Homo sapiens: one gene and its partners. The protein of the gene in region 1 purifies or fractionates together with the protein of each later gene. This does not show direct contact. Each region holds a gene or a part of one and is shown in the gene's direction. Other genes may lie near its edges. The genes, in order: TRPC3, ORAI2, SEC24A and ORAI3.

Region 1 (4,861 bases):
AGCCTAGGTCAAGTAATTATTTTATACATTTTCTTTTAAGCCATTACATTTTTTAAAAATTCTACAGTATTTTCCCTTTATGTAGTCAGGACAATTTGTTAAGTTGGACAATTTGTTAAGTTGTTAAGTTGTACTATTTTGTCCTCTTGTCCCAGAATGGCATTTTCTGCTTTCAGTTTCTTCAGAATGTCCTAGGACCTCTCACTTAAGGGTTTCATCTTTTTCAAACGATATTGCTCACTTTTTAGCATGACATGGAAATGAGAAGAGAGGATAAGAGTGTGATATGAGTATCATTGGGAAACTGTTCTTCTTGTTAAAAATCTTGTGGACTTATTTCTCCAATAATCACTATGGTTTGATAACTAACCATTGTGATTGTATAGAACATATTTTCTTCTCCAAAAGTCTTATGGGATAACTTGAAGAGCCTTCTCTCCTTATTTCCTTTCCTTCTTTCTTCTCCTCACCCCCCTCCACCACCTCCTCTCATGAATAGAGACATCTCTGGTGCCACATGTGGACCGCTTCTCCAAATTCTAGTGTGGTGGGGTGAATTATTTTCTTAGCAGGAGCTTCTTCCATTTAACTCTGCACAGGGCCTCAGTGACCATACAGTCAGTCAGTCAATGCTTTGTGATGCCTAGTACTGTGCTTGACGTGTAGGGTAGAGATGTGACCTGATGGTGGACACAATAATGGCTTCTCAGTCTGGCCTGTAAAATCTGACCTGCACCCTCTGTATTTGTTGTGACAGGAATGATGTGGTCTGAATGTAAAGAGCTCTGGCTGGAAGGACCTAGGGAATACATTTTGCAGTTGTGGAATGTGCTTGACTTTGGGATGCTGTCCATCTTCATTGCTGCTTTCACAGCCAGATTCCTAGCTTTCCTTCAGGCAACGAAGGCACAACAGTATGTGGACAGTTACGTCCAAGAGAGTGACCTCAGTGAAGTGACACTCCCACCAGAGATACAGTATTTCACTTATGGTAAGTTGTTAGCTTCAGGGTCCCCTTGTGTTTTGGGAAAGGTATTGGAACCACATTTTGGAAGGAAATGCCAATTGGAGTATGTTTAGTATGAGAGGTGTATTGAATATTTATGGACAGTGGAGAAAGCATGAACTTTGGAACCTACAAAACTGGATTCATTTCAAGGCTCTGACCCCCTTTGCTGTGTAAACTTGTTCAAGTCAATTTGCTTCACTGTGCCTCAGTTTTCATAGCTATAAAAAGACAATATTGCAAGGTGGAAGAAAATTACCTTTAAGCCTATAAGATAATTACTATTGGGAGACTGTCTTAATTAGGGAAAAAATAGTTTGATAAACTGCTTGATGTGGAAGGTAAGTCCCTGAGAGCATGGGTTCAAGGAGATAAGATAATAAAAGTTGCCAAACTGCTCTGCAGGCAAAGTGAACGGTAATTCAACAGAGGCAGGAAGTAGGTTCTAAAGTGACCGTGAGAATGTAAGCTCTGGAGAACCAGCAGAAATATTTTGGGAGGATGTTGTCCTGTTCACATGGCATGGAATGGGGTTCATGTCAAATATCTCTATATTATGAAGAGCAGTGAGACCTCAGCTGACATCCGGTGTGAAAGAACATTGATGCCTTCCTTGCCCCGTACAAACCAATGGTAAGTAATGTTAGCCTCCCTTCCCTTGAGGCCAAATTGAGGAGCCACAGTTAGCAAATTTGGATATAGTTGTAAAATCTGAAATCTGGAAAATACTTTAGAAAGTGTTGTCTAATCTTCATCTTACAGGTAAGGGAACTCAGGCACAGAGTTTAACTGTGATCTGGTTGTGAAGAATACTTTTTTATAGGTGTAATTAGGGCACATTGTGATGAGTACAAGGAGCATGTTAATGTTATTGAAGGCTGGACTTCCGCTCCAAAATATAAGATGTAATTAAGCACCTCTGTTATTCTCAGCAAGCAAAGACTTTTATATACCAAGGAGACTTGTTCAAATGAGCAAATGATCACCATTTGTAATTAAAGAATTAATTTTAGATTGTATTTTAGGTATCTTGACCATTTCATAACCTATTTATTGAAATTTATTTATGTATATTTGATGACTGTTGTCTGGAAGGGATGGATTCAGGCTTCCCTATCTCCTATATGTATTGTTTTGATCAATTTTTAATCTTTCTAAGTCTGGTTTCTGCATCTCTAAAGAGAGGATAATAATATCAAATCCATAGGATCATTGAAAGCAGTGTCTGACACATATTAAATAGTCAAGAAATGTTAATTTTTTAAACTTTTTTTTAGATTCAGAGGGCACATGTGCAGGTTTGTTACCTGAGCATATTGCATGATTCTGAGGTTTAGGGCTAGGAATGACCTCATTACCTGGGTACTGAGCATATACCCAATAGATGTTTTTCAACCCTTTCCTCCTCCCTCTAGTAGTTTTCCAGTTTCATTGTTGCTATGTTTATGTCCATGAATACCCACTATTTAGCTTCCACTTATAAGTGAAAACCTGCTGTATTTGGTTTTCTATTCCTGCATTAATTCACTTAGGATAATGGCCTCCAGCTGCATTCATGTTGCTGCAAAGGACATGATTTTTGTTCTTTTTTGTGGCTGCATAGTATTCCATGGAGTATATGTACCACATTTTCTGTATCCAGTCCACTGTTGATGAGCACCTAGGTTGATTCCGTATCTTAGCTATTGTGAATAGTGCTGCAATGAAGATGCAAGTGCATGTGTCTTTTGGTAAAACAATATGTTTTCATTTGGATATATACCCACTAATGGAATTGCTGGGTTGAATGGTAGTTCTGTTTTAAGTTCTTTGAGAAATCTTCAAAGTGCTTTCCACAGTGGCTGAACTGATCAACAAATGTTAAGTTTTGTTGTTATTGCAGATGTCTGCAAGTTTGCACAATTAACCACATAATATTTCATTGACCTGACAGGTCTGCTGCAGACTTAATAAGTGACCTTGAAAGGGTTGTTAGGGGTCCTCATTCTGAATCTATATCCAAAATTCTTTTACTTCAGTGGCATTTTACATTTTTCGGGGACAAGTTATATTGCTGAGATAACACATCGTCAGCACCATTGTGATTCAGTGACATTCTCACTCCTCGAAATATTTTATTTGCATGAATTGTTGGATGAACTAATTTTCCCACAAGATATGGAAAAGAAGTTACACTCCGGCTGTGCCTATAGGATGACAAAATAACTGGTCAGTAAATCTAATGACTGAAGGGACAAATCAGTCAAGTCAGTTGTTTTGTCATCCTGGATACAGTCTGTGTCTAACGAAGTGTTTTAACCTCTCCATGTTTTGTATTTTATTCTGTTTCTGCTGAATGTGGAGTCAGCTTAGTATCTTTATAATAGTGTACCCTCCATCTAAAGTAATATAGAATTTACGTTTCTGGTTTAAGATGAAAATAGTCCCTGGACAGTTAATTAAATCTAGATTAGTTTCAACTGAGATGGTAACCACCTACCTACAAGATAGATCCTATTTAAGGTATTTGCTTTGCGTAGTTGGCAATGAATAGAAAGCTCCATTTTTAATCTCTTTCTCTCTTTTTTCTAGCTAGAGATAAATGGCTCCCTTCTGACCCTCAGATTATATCTGAAGGCCTTTATGCCATAGCTGTTGTGCTCAGCTTCTCTCGGATTGCGTACATCCTCCCTGCAAATGAGAGCTTTGGCCCCCTGCAGATCTCTCTTGGAAGGACTGTAAAGGACATATTCAAGTTCATGGTCCTCTTTATTATGGTGTTTTTTGCCTTTATGATTGGCATGTTCATACTTTATTCTTACTACCTTGGGGCTAAAGTTAATGCTGCTTTTACCACGTAAGTAAAATATCTTATTATACAGGTATGATAAAGAGAAATTCTAACCAATCTAGAGGAAGCAAAGGAAAAATTTCTCTGATTGTAATAAAGATGTTTTTAAGCACAGAAAATAATCCATCAAAAACAGTTAGTGCTTGTGTTGATTATATTGCTCTGAAGGCTCATCTCTGAGCTTAGTGAGAGTTTGACCACAGAATGGGTCAGAATTTGGAAAAACCCTAGACAAAACTGGCTATTTTAAGAAAACAGGATAACAGATTTCTAATACTGGATGTCTCTTACATTATGTATAACATTAAAATTAGTTTCATCATTTTGTAGCCAGTACTCTTCTTTCAAAAAGGAAGCATCAGCTTTTATTTTAATATATTCATTGATCGGTACAGGAAGTCGAGTAAGAGGAAGTTATAGCTAAACATTTTATAGCCCACTATCATGGTAATACCAGTTTCTTCCTTTGGCCATACTGGTTTCTACACTGGAGACTCACCTCTTCCATGAAGTCTTCCTTGATCAAGTTTCCTTAGTCATTTTCCCTTCAAGTTCCTGCAGCATGGAGACACCCAGATTGTGAGATCTGTTCTCACCCAGTGGTGTTTGGTTGTCATGAATATAGGGCCCCCCTTCTACTGCAGTTCTTCCAGGTGGGAAGGTCATAAACCCTCCCTGCTCTCCCTTTGTTCCCAATAATGCCACTGCTGGAAACAAACTATACACTCAGTAAGTACTCTATAGACTAAAGTAGCATATCAAGCCCTTGTAGACATCTCAATTGTTCTAAAATGAATTTTTTAATAGTTAATATAGAACAGGTCTTAGAGGTGAAAGAGACTTGAAACTTGCTTTATTGTAATGAAGAAAAAAACCTGTTTGAACCCAGCAGGGAAATTACAAAGAGATCTTGTACACAATGTGATCCCTGCCCCCATTTTCCTTTTAACTCTATGGTAACTCATTTTATACATTCTATTTTCTTCACTGTTTTGTCTAGGGATGTGACCATTCAATGTAGTAGA
Region 2 (5,383 bases), on another chromosome or scaffold:
AGATGGAAAAATCCTATGTAGGGCACGCAGCAGCCTACCCGGCATGGAGGAAGGACTCCAAGGGACCGTCTGGCACCGCCGGGCTGATAGGAACCCATCTTGTCTGTCTGTGAATTATTCATGTGCTGCACTTCCTGAAAAGAATGCTCCTGTTTGACTGCCTCGCTCGTAAAACCGCAGAGAATTCACCGTTAAAGGTGAGAGGCTCCCTGCAGTAGGGAGTGGAAGGGGCCAGGGCACAGCAGAAACTCTTTGCTGCTGTCTGCGAACAGCATGAGAAGGACAGCACGCTGCACTGAAGTTGGGACCCCAGGGGTCTCGCTGGGTCTGTGAGTGGCAGTGCACTCTGGGTGGCAACCCCCAATTAGCTCAGTGCAAGCTCTTCATGGTGCCATCCAACACCCTGGGCAGGGGCCAAGCAAGGTGGCCCATGCCTCTATGCCCAGCACTTTGGGAGGCTGAGGTGGGAGGATCACTTGAGCCCAGGAGTTCGAGACCAGCAGAGGCAACATAGCAAGACCCATCTCAATTTTTTTAAAAAATTTAAAAATTAGCTGGACATTGTGGCACATGCCTGTAATCCCAGTGCTTTGAGAGGCTAAGAGAGGATTGCTTGAGGCCAGGAGTTTAAGACCAGTCTGGGCAATACAGGAAGACTCTATCTCTAAAAAAAGAATTTTTTTTTTTTTTTTTGGCTGGGCACAGTGGCTCACATGTATCATCCCAGCACTTTGGGAGGCCGAGGCAGGCAGGATCACCTGAGGTCAGGAGTTCAAGACCAGTCCGGCCAACATGGTGAAACCCCATCTCTACTAAACATACAAAAAAGTAGCCAGGCTAGTGGCGTGCACCTGTAGCTCGGAGGCTGAGACAGGAGAATCGTTTCAACCCCGGGGTCGGGGGTTGCAGTGAGCCAAGATGGCACCACTGCACTCCAGCCTGGGTGACAGGGCAAAACTCCCTCTCAAAAAACAAACAAAAACAAATTTTTTAAAAACTACCACGGTGTGGTGGCTCCTGCCTACATGTAGCCTCAGCACTTTGGGTGACTGAGGGCAGAGGATCACTCGAGCTCAGGAATTCGAGGCTGCATTGAACCGTGATCGCACCACTGCAGTCCAGCCTGGGCGACAGAGCCAGACCCTGTCTCAAAAAAATAAAAAAAAAAATCCTGTGAAAACTCGGGCGTGGCCAGACGGATTCTCCCCTCCCCACCTTCCTTTCCCCTCCACTGCCCACCTGCACCCGCCCGCCCTGTCCCCACTCCCCGCCCCTCTACGCAGCCAGCGTCCAATGCTGGGCACCCCCCGAGGCTCACCCTGCCAAGCCTGGGGCTCCCCTTTTGCGCCCGGACCCAGGGGCAGGGAAAGCCCAGCTCGTGGTCTGTGGGTAGCCGGACCCCCGATGGGGCGGTGGGGGGCCTCGCCTTGACTCCCAGAGCTGGGGCCGGGGACAGGAGCTGGGGCAGGAGGGATGCGCGCGGGTCGGGGTCTTCCCACCTCCCCTGCTCCTCTCCCTCGCGCGATCCCGGGGTGGTTCCAGGTGAGGCGGGGACCCCCACCCCCCCACTCTCCGAGGAGGCGCCGCCAGCCCCGCCCCTCCCGGCCCGGCGGGTGACGTGGCCGCGGCTCTCCCGCGGGTGGGTCACGTGTTGGCGGCGCCTGGTTGCCTTGGCAGCGGCTGCGGCGGCCGCGGGGGCGGGGTGGAGGCGGGGCCGGGGGACCCCGCGCGACCGGCGGAAGGAGGGAGGGGGCCGCGCTCGGCGCCCCGGCCGGGCCACTGGGCCACAGGCCACGCGGCCACGCAGTCCGAGCGGGAGCCGAGCCGGGCGGGGCGAGGGCAGCTCCGGTGAGTGTGGCGGCGCGGGGGCCTGGCGCGGGGAGCGGGGTCCCTGCGGCTGGGGGGGCCGGAATTGGACCGGGGACGCTCGGCGGGGAAGGGGACGACTGTAGGCTGCCCGGGCGCGGTCACTACCCATCCGGGGTTGGTGACCTCCACCCCGCGGGATCCCTGGCGGGGTGCGGCGCCCAGAGGATCAGGGTCGGCGGCGCAGCCGGTTCCGGACACCGGGGCGTCCCTGGGGGAGGGACAGGGATGCAGCCTAGCGCCCCTGGGAGGCCCCCTCCCAGTGCGCCTGCTGGAGAGAGACACTCGCCATTGCCGGTGCCCCAGATGCTTAGAGGAAGTCAAACTCCAAGACCGCCCTCTGGAAATGTGTCCAGTAGGCCAGCCAGGAAGAAAAGCTCATCTCTAGAGAGGGGATCGCGTTATTCTACAAGACCTGTTTTCTCGGACTGCTCATTAAAGCAAAAAAAAAAAAAAAAAAAAAAAAGCAACCCCACAAGGTTCAGTCCCGGAGCATCCTCTAGGGTCTGTGCCACCTGACAGAAGTACAGGGCTCCATCCTGCCCCACCCCACCCCCTGCCTGGGATCCAGTGTGAGGCCCAGACTCTGTCCCTCCCCCTGGGCCACCGGGCCTGGCACACACAGTTGGCATTGGGAACATAAAGGATGGATTTGAACCCCCTCCTGGGCTGCTCCTTCGAGACCTGGAGACCTGTCTCAAGACCCAGCTCCAGGCAGACAGACATCGTTTCCTCCACAATCCCACCCACTCTGGGGACATCTGCAGGGCCTCACCGATGGGGCATGGGAGGCCTGGCGGCTCCCAGGAAGCCACCCTCAGCCCTCACTGCCCTGAGCTCTTCACCTCCACTCTCAGACCTGAGCCCAGCCCACCCTTACTGATGGGGCATCCCTCTTGTTCACCCTTCCTTCCTTTGGAGGCCACCAGGCTCTCCCTTGCGTCCCACTCCTGCCAGTCGGCCAGCCATTTCCCTGGGTTGAACTGTGGTCCCAAACCAGAATGATCTAGCAGTGCCCAGACCGTTCCACTCACCAATTTCTTCCATTCTCCTGTGGCTGGACGCCCAGTCATGCTGCCCAGACCCTCTGGCTCATTCCACAGCCCCAGGCTCCAAGTGTCTTCCACCCACATCTCCCTGCCCCCTCCACCCCCCAGGTGGCAGCCAGTCTTCCCTCCATATCTCCTGGACAAGGAGAGCCACCCCACATGTACACCTGGAGTGGCCTTCCCGTCTCTCGGAATCCTTCCATGCAGGCAGCATCTTGTCTTTGAGGAAAGGTCCCTCTTTTTTAAAATTCTTTTTAGAGGCCAGGCGCAGTGGTTCATGCCTATAATCTCAGCACTTTGGGAGGCCAAGGTGGGCGGATCACTTGAGCTCAGGAGTTCTAGACCAGCCTGGCCAACATAGCAAAACCCTGTCTCTACCAAAAATACCAAAAATTAGCCAGGTATGGTGGCACACACATGTAGTCCCAGCTACTCGGGTGGTTGAGGCGGGAGGATCGCTTGAGCCTGGGAGGTAGAATTTGCAGGGAGCTGAGATTGTGCCACTGCACTCCAGCCTTGGTAACACAGCAGGACCCCATGTCAAAAAAAATTATTTTTAGAGACAGCGTCTTACTCTGTTGCCTAGGCTGGTCTCCAGCTCCTGGCCGCAGGTGATCCTCCCACCTTGGCCTCACAAAACACTGGGATTACAGGCATGAGGCACTTTGGCATGCAAAGGGCCGCTCTGTCCCCTCCCCGGTGTTACCTGCAAGCACCTTTTCCTGGCCTTGGTGTGAGGCAGCCAGTCCTCTGCTCCCTGCCCTCCATTGAAGCCTTTAGCTCAGTGGATGAGGATTGCCCCCCCCTCTTTTTTTTTTTTTTTTTTGAGATGGAGTCTCGCTCTGTTGCCCAGGCTGGAGTGCAGTGGTGTGCTCTTGGCTCACTGCAACCTCTGCCACCACACCCAGCTATTTTTTTTTTTTTAAGACAGAGTCTCACTGTGTCACCCAGGCTGGAGTGCCGCGGTAGGATCTCAGCTCACTGCAACCTCCGCCTCCTGGGATCAGGCAATTCTCCTGCCTCAGCCTCCTGAGTAGCTGGGATTACAGGCGCCCACCACCATGCCCAGTTACTTTTTGTATTTTTAGAAGAGACAGGTTTCCACCATGTTGTCCAGGCTAGTCTCGAACTCCTGACCTCTAGTGATCCGCCCACCTCAGCCTCCCAAAGATGACAGGTGTGAGCTACTGCTCCTGACCCACATCCCCTTACCTTGCTCCCCTACTGGGAGGCCATGAATTCTGGCCTCTTTCATCTTGGATCTTTAAGTACCAAGTGCGCTAAGCACCTGTGTGATGGAGGAGGGAGGACGGAGGGAGCAAAGGTTAGCGTCTCACCCCTCCAGTCTCTGTATACTGCGGTCATCAGACCTGCATGCTCAATTCTGTTAACTATGGGGGTGGGGGGAGAGGAAAAATGCAGTTTCCAAATTACAGCATTTTCTATTATGTGGAGCTAACCTACGGATTGCAGCGTTTCTCTGAATTCTCCCCAAGGGAAGGAACGTCCCAGGGATGGAAGTGCTTGGATGCGGTGCTGCTGGCTGCGGATGTGCGCAAGGAGATGGGATGGAGAGCCTGAGTTGGCATTCGTATAAATGACCTGGTAATTGGCATCCCCTGGCAGAAATAGCACAGAACTGTTCCCAGAGGTCTTGTTGGCCAGGGAAGGCTGTGGCTTTGTAGCCTTGTTGAGAACAAAGGGAAAGGCGACACTGTTTTCCACCTCCAGCACCTTCCTGCGTAATTTCCAAATTGGGGCATTTTCAATTATGGGGGGCTCGACTCTGGCATGGATGGACTAAGTTTGGGGCATTTCCTCAGCTGCTGACCCTGTTAAGCACTCCCCACTCCACCCGTCCACCCCAGCCACGCTCCCTGGGACCTAGAAACACGGATCTGTGTGTAACAGCCTGACATAGACTTTCCGTGGGGCCTATGTGGGCCTGGACATAGAAGTTACTCTTTTCGTTTCTTTTTTTTCTTTTCTTTTCTTTTTTTGAGACGGAATCCTGCTCTGTCACCCAGGCTGGAGTGCAGTGGCGCAATCTTGGCTCACTGCAACCTCCGCCTTCTGGGTTCAAGCGATTCTCTTGCCTCAGCCTCCCGAGTAGCCGGGATTACAGGAGCCCGCCACCACACCTGGCTAATTTTTGTATTTTTAGTGGAGACAGGGTTTCACCATGTTGGCCAGGCTGGAAAAGTCACTCTTTTTGATGTCAAGTAAACCACAAGATGCCTGTGCCCTTGAAGCACGCCCTGCAGATTAATTAGAACTGGATCCTGGCGTGTGGCCGAGCAGCCCAGCTCCTTGGGACACACGCGACCGCCAATCCCCTACTTAGTGGAGATTTGGGTTTAAATTCACAAATCTTGACAGATCTGTCCTTCTGATGTTTAATCCGTGTTAGTCAAACCAGATGTTTACCAGGTGTGAGTCCAGGCATCTCCGCCTTCTGTTTCTCCTTA
Region 3 (4,861 bases), on another chromosome or scaffold:
TCACCATTTGGCCAGGCTGGTCTCGAACTCCTGACCTCGTGATCCTCCCACCTTGGCCTCCCAAAGTGCTGGGATTACAGGTGTGAACCACTACGCCTGGCCCAGGCTTTCCTAAAGAAACGTACAGCTTTTTGGCCAGGCTGGTCTCAAAATCCTGACCTCAGGTGATCTGCCCGCCTGAGCCAAAGTGCTGAGATTACAGGTGTGAGCCACCGCACCCGGCCACATGAGATTTTTTACTAATGCAGATTCTGGGATCCTTTTGAATCCTATGAAATAGGATTTTACAAAGGTGGGACCTGGGATCTCAATTTGTACCATTATTATAGCAGGTTCCTCTGATTCTGAAGCTGCTGGTTGGGTGGGAAGCACTCATCTGCATTCATTCTTGCCTCTAACTTTCTAATTTAGCTTCTTTACCCACACATCCCAAAATTGTCCTTAATAAGGCCACAAGGCTGGGCGTGGTGGCTCATGCCTGTAATCCCAGCACTTTGGGAGGTCAAGGCGGGTGGATCACAAGGTCCGGAGTTCAAGACCAGCCTGGCCAACATGGTGAAACCTTGTCTCTACTAAAAATACAAAAATTAGCCGGGTGTGGTGGCGTGCGCCTGTAATCCCAGCTACTCAGGAGGCCTCAGCCTCCTGAGTGATTCTCAGCAGGAGAATCACTTGAACCCGAGAGGTGGAGGTTGCAGTGAGCCGAGATCATGACATTGCACTGCAGCCTGGGCGACAGAGCAAGAATTCATCTCAAAATAAATAAATAAATAAATAAGGCCACAAATGGCTTCCTGGTTATTAAATAGAAAAATATTTTTCAGTTCTCATTTTCCGAGCTGCATTTGATACCTTTGGCTGTTATTTTGTTTTTACAACAATTGCTTTCTTTGGTTTCTAGGATATCACCAGAAGGGTAGTTATGGTTTTCTTTCTTTTTTTTGGTTGCTATTTCTCAACAGCAGTATTCTCAATATTTCTTCCATTTCTGATTGTTTTTTTCTCTCTCCTCCTTAAATATTGGTGTTCTTCAAGGTGACCTATTTTTCTTACTCTTATATACTCCCTGGGTGTCTTTAATTCCCATGGTTTTAAATCTTATGCATAGATCAGTGACTCCCATAATTATATCTTAAGGTGAAATCTGTCACTTTGGCTGCAGCTAAATATCTTTTTTTTTTTTTTTTTAAGACAGAGTCTTGCTCTGTTGCCCAGGCTGGAGTGAGGTGGCACGATCTTGGCTCACTGCAACCTTTGCCTCCTGGGTTCAAGCGATTCTCCTTTCTCAGCCTCCGGAGTAGCTGGGACCACCGGCATGTGCCACCACACCCGGCAAATTTTTTGTATTTTTAGAAGAGATGGGGTTTCACCGTCTTAGGATGGTGTTGCTCTCCTGACCTCATGATCTGCCCGCCTTGACCTCCCAAAGTGCTGGGATTACAGGCCTGAGCCACCGCGCCCAGCGCAGATAAATATCTTTATACTGGACATCTCCACTTAGATTTCTTGGTGGCACCTGAAAATTAGTGTGTTTAAAATAACTCTTCGATCTCTCTTCCCTTTGCCATTCCCCACCTTTGTTTTTTTGAGACAGAGTCTTGCTCTGTCAACCAGGCTGGAGTGCAGTGGCACGATATCCGCTCATTGCAACCTCCGCCTCCCAGGTTCAAGCAATTCTCCTGCCTCAGCCTCTGAGTAGCTGGGACTATAGGCGTGTGCCACCATGCCCGGCTAATTTTTGTATTTTAGTAGAGACGGGGTTTCACCGTGTTGGTCAGGCTGGTCTCGAACTTCTGACTTCAGGTGATCCACCCACCTCGGCCTCCCAAAGTGTTGGGATTACAGGCATGAGCCACTGCATCCGACTTTTTTTTTTTTTTTTTTTTTAAAGACAGCTCTCATTCTGTCGCCCTGGCCGGAATGCAATGATGCAATGATAGCTCACTGCAGCCTTGAACTCCTGGGCTCAAGTAATCCTTGATCCTTGATCAAGTGGGTGGAGTGGCTCATGCTTGTAATCTTAGTACTTTGGGAGGTCGAGTCAAGAAGATCCCTTGAGCCCAGGAGTTCGAGACCAGCCTGGACAACTTAGGGAGACCCCATCTCTACAAAAAAATTTAAAAATTAGCCAGGCATAATGGTGCACGCCTGTAGGCCCAGCTACTCAAGAGGGGAGGTGGGAGGATCGCTTGAGCTTGGGAGGTCGAGGCTGCGGTGAGCTGTGACACTTCAGCCTGGGTGGCAGAGCGAGACCTCATTTCTGAAAAACGCACACACACACACACACACACACACACACACAACCAAAACTTATATTTTGTAGAGATAGGGACTTGCTATTGCCCAGGCTGGTCTCAAACTCCTGGCCTCAAGTGATCCTCCCACCTTGACTTTCTAAAGTGCTGGGATTGCAGGCATGAGCCACCGTGCCTGGCCTACATTTCTATTCTTTTCTCTTTCTGTTCAAATGAATAAACACGGCCATCCACCAGGTTGCTCAGGTCAGAAACCTAGGAGTCATCCTAGATTTTTTCCTCTCTTCATCACCCATATTCAATTCCACATAAAATCCCATGAATGCTGTTTCCTCAAATCAGTTTTTAAAAATTTGAGTAATGTATAGATACTAAATATTTCTCTGCTGTCCCAATGTTAAATTATTTATTTATTTATTTTACTTCTGACACAGGTTCTCACTCTGTTGCCCAGGCTAGAGTGCAGGGGCATGATCACAGCCCACTGCAGGCTTGATCTCTTGGGTTCAAGTGATCCTCCCGCCTCAGCCTCCCAAGTAGCTGGGAATATAGGCACGTGCCACCACAACTGGCTAATTATTTATTTTTTTGTAGAGACGAGGTCTCACTATATTACCCAGGTTATTCTTGAACTCCTGAGGTCAAGCCGTGCTCCCACCTTGGCTTTTCAAAGTGCTCGGATTACAAGATCAAGCCAACATGCCTGGCAAAAATTATTTTTATTAAATGTGTATATGCAAACACAAAACTAGATGTAAACTTCATAGGGTTATAGCTATTGTACTATTGTAAAACCAAACATTAAAAATATCAACATATGGCTGGGCATGGTGGCTCACGCCTGTAATCCCAGCACTTTGGGAGGCTGAGGTGGCCAGATCACTTGAGGTCAGAAGTTCAAGAACAGCCTGGCCAACATGGTGAAATCCCGTCTCTACTAAAAATACAAAATTAGCCAGCGTGGTGGTGCACACCTGTAATCCTAGCTACTCGAGAGGCTGAATGAGGCAGGAGAATCGCCTGAACCCAGGAGGCGGAGGTTGCAGTGAGCCGAGATCGCACCACTGCACTTTAGCTTGGGCAACAGAGCGAGACTCTGTCTCAAAAAAAAATCAAAAGCAATATAATTCAATTTTAAAACATTAAACAATATGCTACATTTTGTTTGAAACCACAGTTGATTTGATTGTTTTAATTTTGAATATGTTGGAACATTACTTGGGTGACTATCATGCTCACTTTTTCCTTTTTGTTTTTGAGACACGTTCTCACTCTGTAGCCCAGGGTGGAATGCCTAATTATAGCTCACTGAAGTCAAACTCCTGGGCTCAAGCAGTCCTCTTGCCTCAGCCTCCTGAGAAGCTAGATCTACAGGCATGTGCCACAACTCCTGGCTAATTTTTTAATTTTTAATTTTTTTGTGTGGAAATGGAGTCTCGCTGTGTTGCCCAGGCTGGTCTCCTACTCCTGAGCTCAAGTAGTTCTGCTTTGGCCTCCCAGTGTGATGGGATTACAGGCATGAGCCACCATGCCCAACCTCTACACGATTTTAATAGGGGAAGAATGGGGTGGGGGAGAGGACATTTACTGGAAAACAGACGACTTATAGGAAGGATAAATGGGCTTTTAGAATAGATATGATAGTTTTGTGATGATATCTGTTTAGGTGTGGTGTGGAAATTTCTCATCTCAGGTCATGAGTCAGATTGACATCTTTCCTGGTTGCCCCTGGGAAGTAGATTATGACAATTGAGTTCTTTTGGAAGGCTCTGTTTTAGGCAGATAAGAGATTTTAGGAACTCAAATGCCTTCTGCTTAAAATAATTTTTATGCCATAGTAGCGTATTCTGGACCCCTTCACAATCACTGACCCATTTATTTTTATTTATTTATTTATTTATTTATTTATTTATTTATTTATTGAGATGGAATCTTGCTCTGTCACCCAGGCTGGAGTGCAGTGGCGCGATGTTGGCTCACTGCAAGCTCTGCCTCCTGGGTTCACGCCATTCTCCTGCCTCAGCCTCCCGAGTAGCTGGGACTACAGGCACCCGCCACCACGCTCCACTAATTTTTTTGTATTTTTAGTAGAGATGGGGTTTCACCATGTTAGCCAGGATGGTCTTGATCTCCTGACCTCGTGATCCGCCCGCCTTGGCCTCCCAAAGTGCTGGGATTATAGGCGTGAGCCACCGCGCCTGGCCTCACAGACCCATTATTTTGATGGGCTACTTAGTAATGACTTCAGAATTTAAAAAAATTATCCATTTAGTGAAGGTGTCATTATATATTTATTACTACACTTTTTGTGAACTACTTGTAATTGATCCATATATGATTTTCACATAGTGGGGAGGGATGTCAGAAAAAAAAATTTTCATGTAATAGTTACTCACAATAGGTCTATGATGGTGACTACCACAAAACAAGTTCTTTTGTATCTGTCTTCCTGCCAGTTGGCCTTATGACCTCATATTCTTTTTTTTTTTTTTTTTTTTGAGACAGGATACAGGGTCTCACTTTGTCACAGAGGCTGGAGTGCAGTGGCGTGAACGCAGCTCCCTGCAGCCTTAACCTCCTGTGCTCAGTGATCCTCCTGCCTCAGC
Region 4 (5,455 bases), on another chromosome or scaffold:
GATTCCTGAGTGTCAGTGACTTGGGATTCCCACCCAGGGACTCAAGCCAGCCACCCCCTTCTTTCCCCCCTGCACTGATATCTCTGGGGGTTTCTCCTTCCTATGTCCTGCCCCTGCTACCTGCTTCATTGTCCATCCCCTGGGGGAGTGGGTCAGAGGTACTGGAGGGTGCTGAGCCGAAGGGACGGTGGGAGGGGGGTTATGGTGCAAGTGTTGGGGGGGAGAATGGGGAAAGGACACACACAGGATATGGGAGCCAGGGGCTGGGGGAGGTGGAAGGGGCGGGGGGCGGGGCAGACAGCAGACCACCAAGGGTTCAGGGAACAAAGACCAGTTACTTGGAGTGGGGGGTGGGGGTGGGGCCACAAAAGGAAAACCGGAGGAGCAATTGGGGATCCAGGTGTCAGAGGTAGGGGAACCAGGGGCAAGCTGGGGCTGAGCTGGAGGTGGGGATGAGAGCAGGTGTGGGGACAGCAATACCCCCTTGGGGGTCACCTCTCTGCTTCCCCCCTCCCCAGGCTTCAGTTCCTTCCCCCTGACCCTGACTCCTTGAACGTCACTGAAAACGGCAGCTATTGCAAGGAGTGGGGGCCGCGGGCAGCCGCTCTTCAGCTCGCGGCCCAGGGGAGTGGCGAGGGGCGCCCCAACCCCCTGCCCGCCTCTCCGCACAATACTTGAACATTCATCTGTACTGAAGTGTTACTTGAACCGGGGGAATCTCGGACCTGGGGGAGCCGGGGTGTGAGGGGACTGGACCAGCTTGGACTGAGACCTGAGACCGGGCCGGTGGGCGCCCATTTGGGACTGCGCCACCCCCAGGCTTGTTCTTGTTTTACTGTATTGAGCGGCGGCACCCGCCGGACCCGCATTATGGCTGGGGGCGCCAGCCCAAGAATGGGGACCATGGGACTCCTCCAGCCTGGCTCTTCCCACTCTTTCATCGTCATGGAAACTTGTATCCCATTTGCCCAGGGAACTGCCACTCCTGGTTGCCATGGAAATAGCAGCCAACGGACACCTCCCGATGCCAGTGCTAAGGCTGGAAATGGCCCCCTCTTAGTTGCCATGGGAACCTAGTAACAGACTCTGCTGGCCCTCCTTCCCTGCCCCTTCCTCGAGCGCGGGGTGGGGCTTCGGGACCCCGGGGATGAGCCGGGCCAGGTCCCGCCCCTCCGCGCAGGCCTCCGGGGGGCCGGGGCTTACCATGTAGGGGAGGGGAGATCTATCCACATACCTCAGGTAACAGGGAGGTGCGCGGGTGGGGGGAGGGCTGGGCGGACCAAAGGCCGGAGGGGTGGGGCCTGGGGATAGCGAGAGGCTTGAGAATGGGGCCGCTTGGGGGAGGGAAGAGGCAGCCCGGCGAGGGGCAAGCGGGGGACCCAGCCGGGCTGGGCCCCTGGGCCCCGGGTCTGTACAATACGGTTTGCTATAAAACTCAAAATCTTCCAGCCGGGGCTGCGGAGTTCGTGTGTGTATCTGCGGGGTCCCTACCTACAGATGAGTGGGCTCACCTCTCCTGGACTCATTTTGGGAGGGATTTGGAAGTGTGGACACCTGGGGTGTCCAGCTGTACCTTGGAGGGGGCTGGGGTTGGCGTGCACCTCGGTGGGGTCCGGGCGCTTGGATAACGTTCTTGGTGGGTAGGGGTCGCGGGGAATCTCTGCGGGCCCGGGACTGCGGGGACTTGGTCCCCGGCTCCACCCCATCATGTGGCTAGCCCCGGCTCCGCCTCTGTCCCAGTTCCTGTTTTGGCCTCCGCTGTCCCGCTCCGGCTCCTGGGGCTCCCCGCAGACGCTGCTTTTCTTGCTCCACTGGGGGTGCCTCTTCCTGGGCGCCCGCCGCCTGCATCCTGCTCGTCCTGTCTGGGAATGGGGCCGCCCCCGGGCTTGGGCCGGCCCGGCTGGGGCCCCCGAGGCGCTTCCGCCCCGTAGTGACCGCCTGGTGCCGCCCCCCCCCCAGGATGAAGGGCGGCGAGGGGGACGCGGGCGAGCAGGCCCCGCTGAACCCTGAGGGCGAGAGCCCTGCAGGCTCGGCCACGTACCGGGAGTTCGTGCACCGCGGCTACCTGGACCTCATGGGGGCCAGTCAGCACTCGCTGCGGGCGCTCAGCTGGCGCCGCCTCTACCTCAGCCGGGCCAAGCTCAAAGCTTCCAGCCGCACGTCTGCCTTGCTCTCGGGCTTCGCCATGGTGAGGGGCCGGGAGGGGTCACACCCGGTGGGGCAGAGCAAGTGGGGGGCACAGGTCGGGGGGGGGGCGAAGTAAACAGGTCCCAAGGGAGACAGGTTAAAGGGGGCTTTCGTCAAAGGGGGAAGGAACAAGGTCCCGCGGGACTGAGCAAGTCCCTTCTTACGGATGTGTGTGTACAGGGGACCCCAGGAGACGGGGCCACCGGAGGACACGAAAGTCCTAAAGGTGTCGTAGTGGGAGTGGGGTGAACAAATCGCTGGTGGGGTTGACTGCAACAGTGAGGCAGAGTGGTCCAGATGGAGCCTGTACCTGGCAGAAGTGGTTCCTAAGTCCCAGTGCCAGCTTCAAAGGCAGGTCAGCTGGGTGGGGGCTGCATCAACAGGTGGGGGGCTCGAGATGGATTAGCTGGGTGGAAGGGTCACCCAGCTGAAGGTGGGCCCGTCCCAGGGAAGGTGGCCACTCTCCAGCGGGCCCAAGGGGTGCTAGTGTCAACCAGGAAAACTGACAAGAGATCATGCCCGGGAGGGAACCGCTGGGGAAGGAGGCTGATGAGGAAACTGATAAGCGAGTCTCAAGCTGATAAACCCCAGGTGCAGGAGGACGGTGTTGGCTAACGGTCTGCCCCAGCAGTGGCCTCACAGGAAGTGGGATGGAGGGAGGTCCCAGGGTGAGGATCAGCAGACACAGTCCTGGCTCCTCCCTGCTTGTGGCCAGCTGTGTGACCCTGGACAGGCCTCCACCCCGCTTGCAAGCCAGTGGGAAACTGAGATCATGGAGGGTGCGCCCTCTGTAGCCAGCCAAGTAACCGCCCCAGGGTGAGCCAGGCATGTCAGAGCAGGTCACGTACCAAGGATGGCTCAGACTAGCCTGCTAATTGGACAGGTGTGGAAAGTAAAAGCCTTGCCTCTGGGCAGGAGCGAATGAACTGGGACCCAGGGTTGCTGCTCTGTTAGTCTGGGGTTGCCCCACCATCACCCCAGGAAAAAGGAGAAAGTGAGCTGCAGGAGGTACTTTGGGGAACGCACTCCTGTGGGGGTGGATATCAGAGGCGGTTGGGGTGGGGACCATGGCGCTAGGGGATCTGGGCTAGTCCCTGCCCTGTCTGTGCCACAACCTCCATATTTGAACAATGACAGGGAAACTCTCTAACCCTAAGGGTCATCATAAGCCTATGGTCTTCTATGTGGGGTCCCAGAATCCACAGACCAGCTTACCTTTCATGATGGGGGCATCACCTAGGGACAGGATGTTGGCTCCCCTTCATCTGCACAGCCTGCAGAGGGAAGGGAGCAGCCACCCAAGCTGAGGGAGGTCAACCCCATGGTCCAGCCTGTTCCCAAGGAGACAATCCCTCCACGGCAGAATATGCAGGTGCAGGTTGCTGGGGTGACAGCTTAAGGGCCCGAGCCTTCTCTGCAGGAGGAAGGGGCTGGAGGTTTAGGTTCCGGGGGCAGGACTGGCCGCAGTCCTAGCAGGGGTGACCGAGGCTGGGCCAGGCTCTGGGAGAAACCAGGACTAAGCCTGGCCCAGATCCCTGTCTGTGGAAAACACCTCCTGACACCTGCCATGGCCCAATTTCCCAAAATACTCAGCCCTGTTTTCCTACCTCCACCCGCCAGCCTCTACACCTACCTTCTTCTTTCCCCAGGCCCAGAGCAATCGAATGGACCCTACAAGAACCAGGGATGGGGAGAGAGTGGGCTTCTGAAACTCAGGTGGCCTAAGTTAGAATAGCATTATACAAATTGTATCCAGCTGTCACTAAGCACCAGGCACTGCCCTCAGTGCCTTTATATACATCATCTGTTAGCCTACAAAGTGGGTACTGCTACTCTGGCCATTTTACAGATGAGGAAACTGAGGATCAGAGATGTTAAGACACCTGCCCAAGGTCCCACAGCAAGTAAGTGGCAGGATTTGAGCCTAAGCCGTCTGGTTCCAGACTCCAAATTTATAAATTCCTAGAATAGGGTCATCAACTCAAATGTTTGCAAAGGGCCAGGCAGGTAATATGGATGCCAAATTGGCTGGGTAGGGACTAGCAAGCAAGAGACCCCATGACATTGGGGGTGATGGCTCACACCTTTCATCCCAGCACTTTGGGAGGCCAAGGCAGGAGGATCGCTTGAGCCTAGGAGCCCAGGAGTTCGAGTCCAGCCAGCCTGGGCAACATAGCAAGACCTGGCATCTACCAAAAAAAAAAAAAGAGAGACCCCATGACCTTTCCAAGGGGAGCAGCCATGACTGATTTGAGCTGATAGTTGCCATGCAGGAACGCAGGCCAAGTGTGGCTAGTTCTTCCAAGTTTTCAAGGGGATCTGGAAATAGGGATATAAGAAATCTCTTCAGTTTTACAAGTTGGCAGCATCTTCCATTTTTTAAGAAACACACTGTGTGAGCCAAGCAAAACACGTCTGCAAGCTGGCAGTGGTCCACAGTGTGCCGATTTGTAAACTCTGTCCTCAGACTTTAGCATTCACTATAGCAAGAACAGCAAACACATACCTAGTGCTTACTCTGTGCCTGGCACTGTTCTTTTTCTTTTTCTTCCTTTTCCTTTTCCTTTCCTTTCCTCTTTCTTTTTCTTTCTTTCTTTTCTTTCTTATCTTTCTTTTTTTTTTTTTTTTGAGACAGAGTCCCACACTGTCACCCAGGCTGGAGTGCAGTGGTGCGATCTCGGCTCACTGCAACCTCTGCCTCCTGGGTTCAAGCAATTCTCCTGCCTTAGCCTCCCAAGCTCCTGAGTAGCCGGGATTACAGGCGCACACCACCACGCCCGGCTAATTTTTATATTTTTAGTAGAGACAGGGTTTCACCATGTTGGCCAGGCTGGTCTTGAACTCCTGACCTCAGGTGATCCGCCCAACTCGGCCTCCCAAAGTGTTGGGATGAAAGGCGTGAGCCACCACTCCCAGCCCATTTCATGTATATTTCATTTAATGTTTATACCAACCCTATAAGGCAGGGAGGTGCTGTTATCAATCTCTATTTCCAGATAGGAAATTGAGGCACACAGAGAACTGACTTGCTCAAGATTACACAGCTAGAGCAGAGAATGATCCCAGGCAGCCCAGCTCCAGAATCTGCTGTTTGATCCCTATGCAGTAAACCTGTTAGAAGCATGTCATCCAGCCCTTTTTTTTATTTTTATTTTTAATTTTTTTTTGAGACAGAGTCTTGCTCTGTTGCCCAGGCTGGAGTGCAGTCACATGATCTCGGCTCACTCAAACTTCTGCCTCCTGGGTTCAAGCAGTTCTCCTGCCTCAG

Evidence for each region.
Region 2: the proteins of TRPC3 (region 1) and ORAI2 purify together in Homo sapiens (co-immunoprecipitation; one study listed by IntAct). This does not show direct contact.
Region 3: the proteins of TRPC3 (region 1) and SEC24A purify together in Homo sapiens (affinity purification with mass spectrometry; one large-scale study listed by BioGRID and IntAct). This does not show direct contact.
Region 4: the proteins of TRPC3 (region 1) and ORAI3 purify together in Homo sapiens (co-immunoprecipitation; one study listed by IntAct). This does not show direct contact.

The regions. Positions count from the first base shown.
Region 1 is NC_000004.12:121,906,284-121,911,144, reverse strand, and holds part of TRPC3 (short transient receptor potential channel 3), read left to right. Parts: intron 1-757; coding exon 758-991; intron 992-3,577; coding exon 3,578-3,842; intron 3,843-4,861. UniProt on the Homo sapiens protein: Forms a receptor-activated non-selective calcium permeant cation channel.
Region 2 is NC_000007.14:102,431,814-102,437,196, forward strand, and holds the start of ORAI2 (protein orai-2), read left to right. Parts: upstream 1-1,761; 5' UTR 1,762-1,848; intron 1,849-4,388; exon of another isoform or gene 4,389-4,411; 5' UTR 4,412-4,520; intron 4,521-5,383. UniProt on the Homo sapiens protein: Pore-forming subunit of inward rectifying Ca(2+) release-activated Ca(2+) (CRAC) channels.
Region 3 is NC_000005.10:134,654,913-134,659,773, forward strand, and holds part of SEC24A (protein transport protein Sec24A), read left to right. Parts: intron 1-4,861. UniProt on the Homo sapiens protein: Component of the coat protein complex II (COPII) which promotes the formation of transport vesicles from the endoplasmic reticulum (ER).
Region 4 is NC_000016.10:30,947,330-30,952,784, forward strand, and holds the start of ORAI3 (protein orai-3), read left to right. Parts: upstream 1-1,738; 5' UTR 1,739-1,960; coding exon 1,961-2,188; intron 2,189-5,455.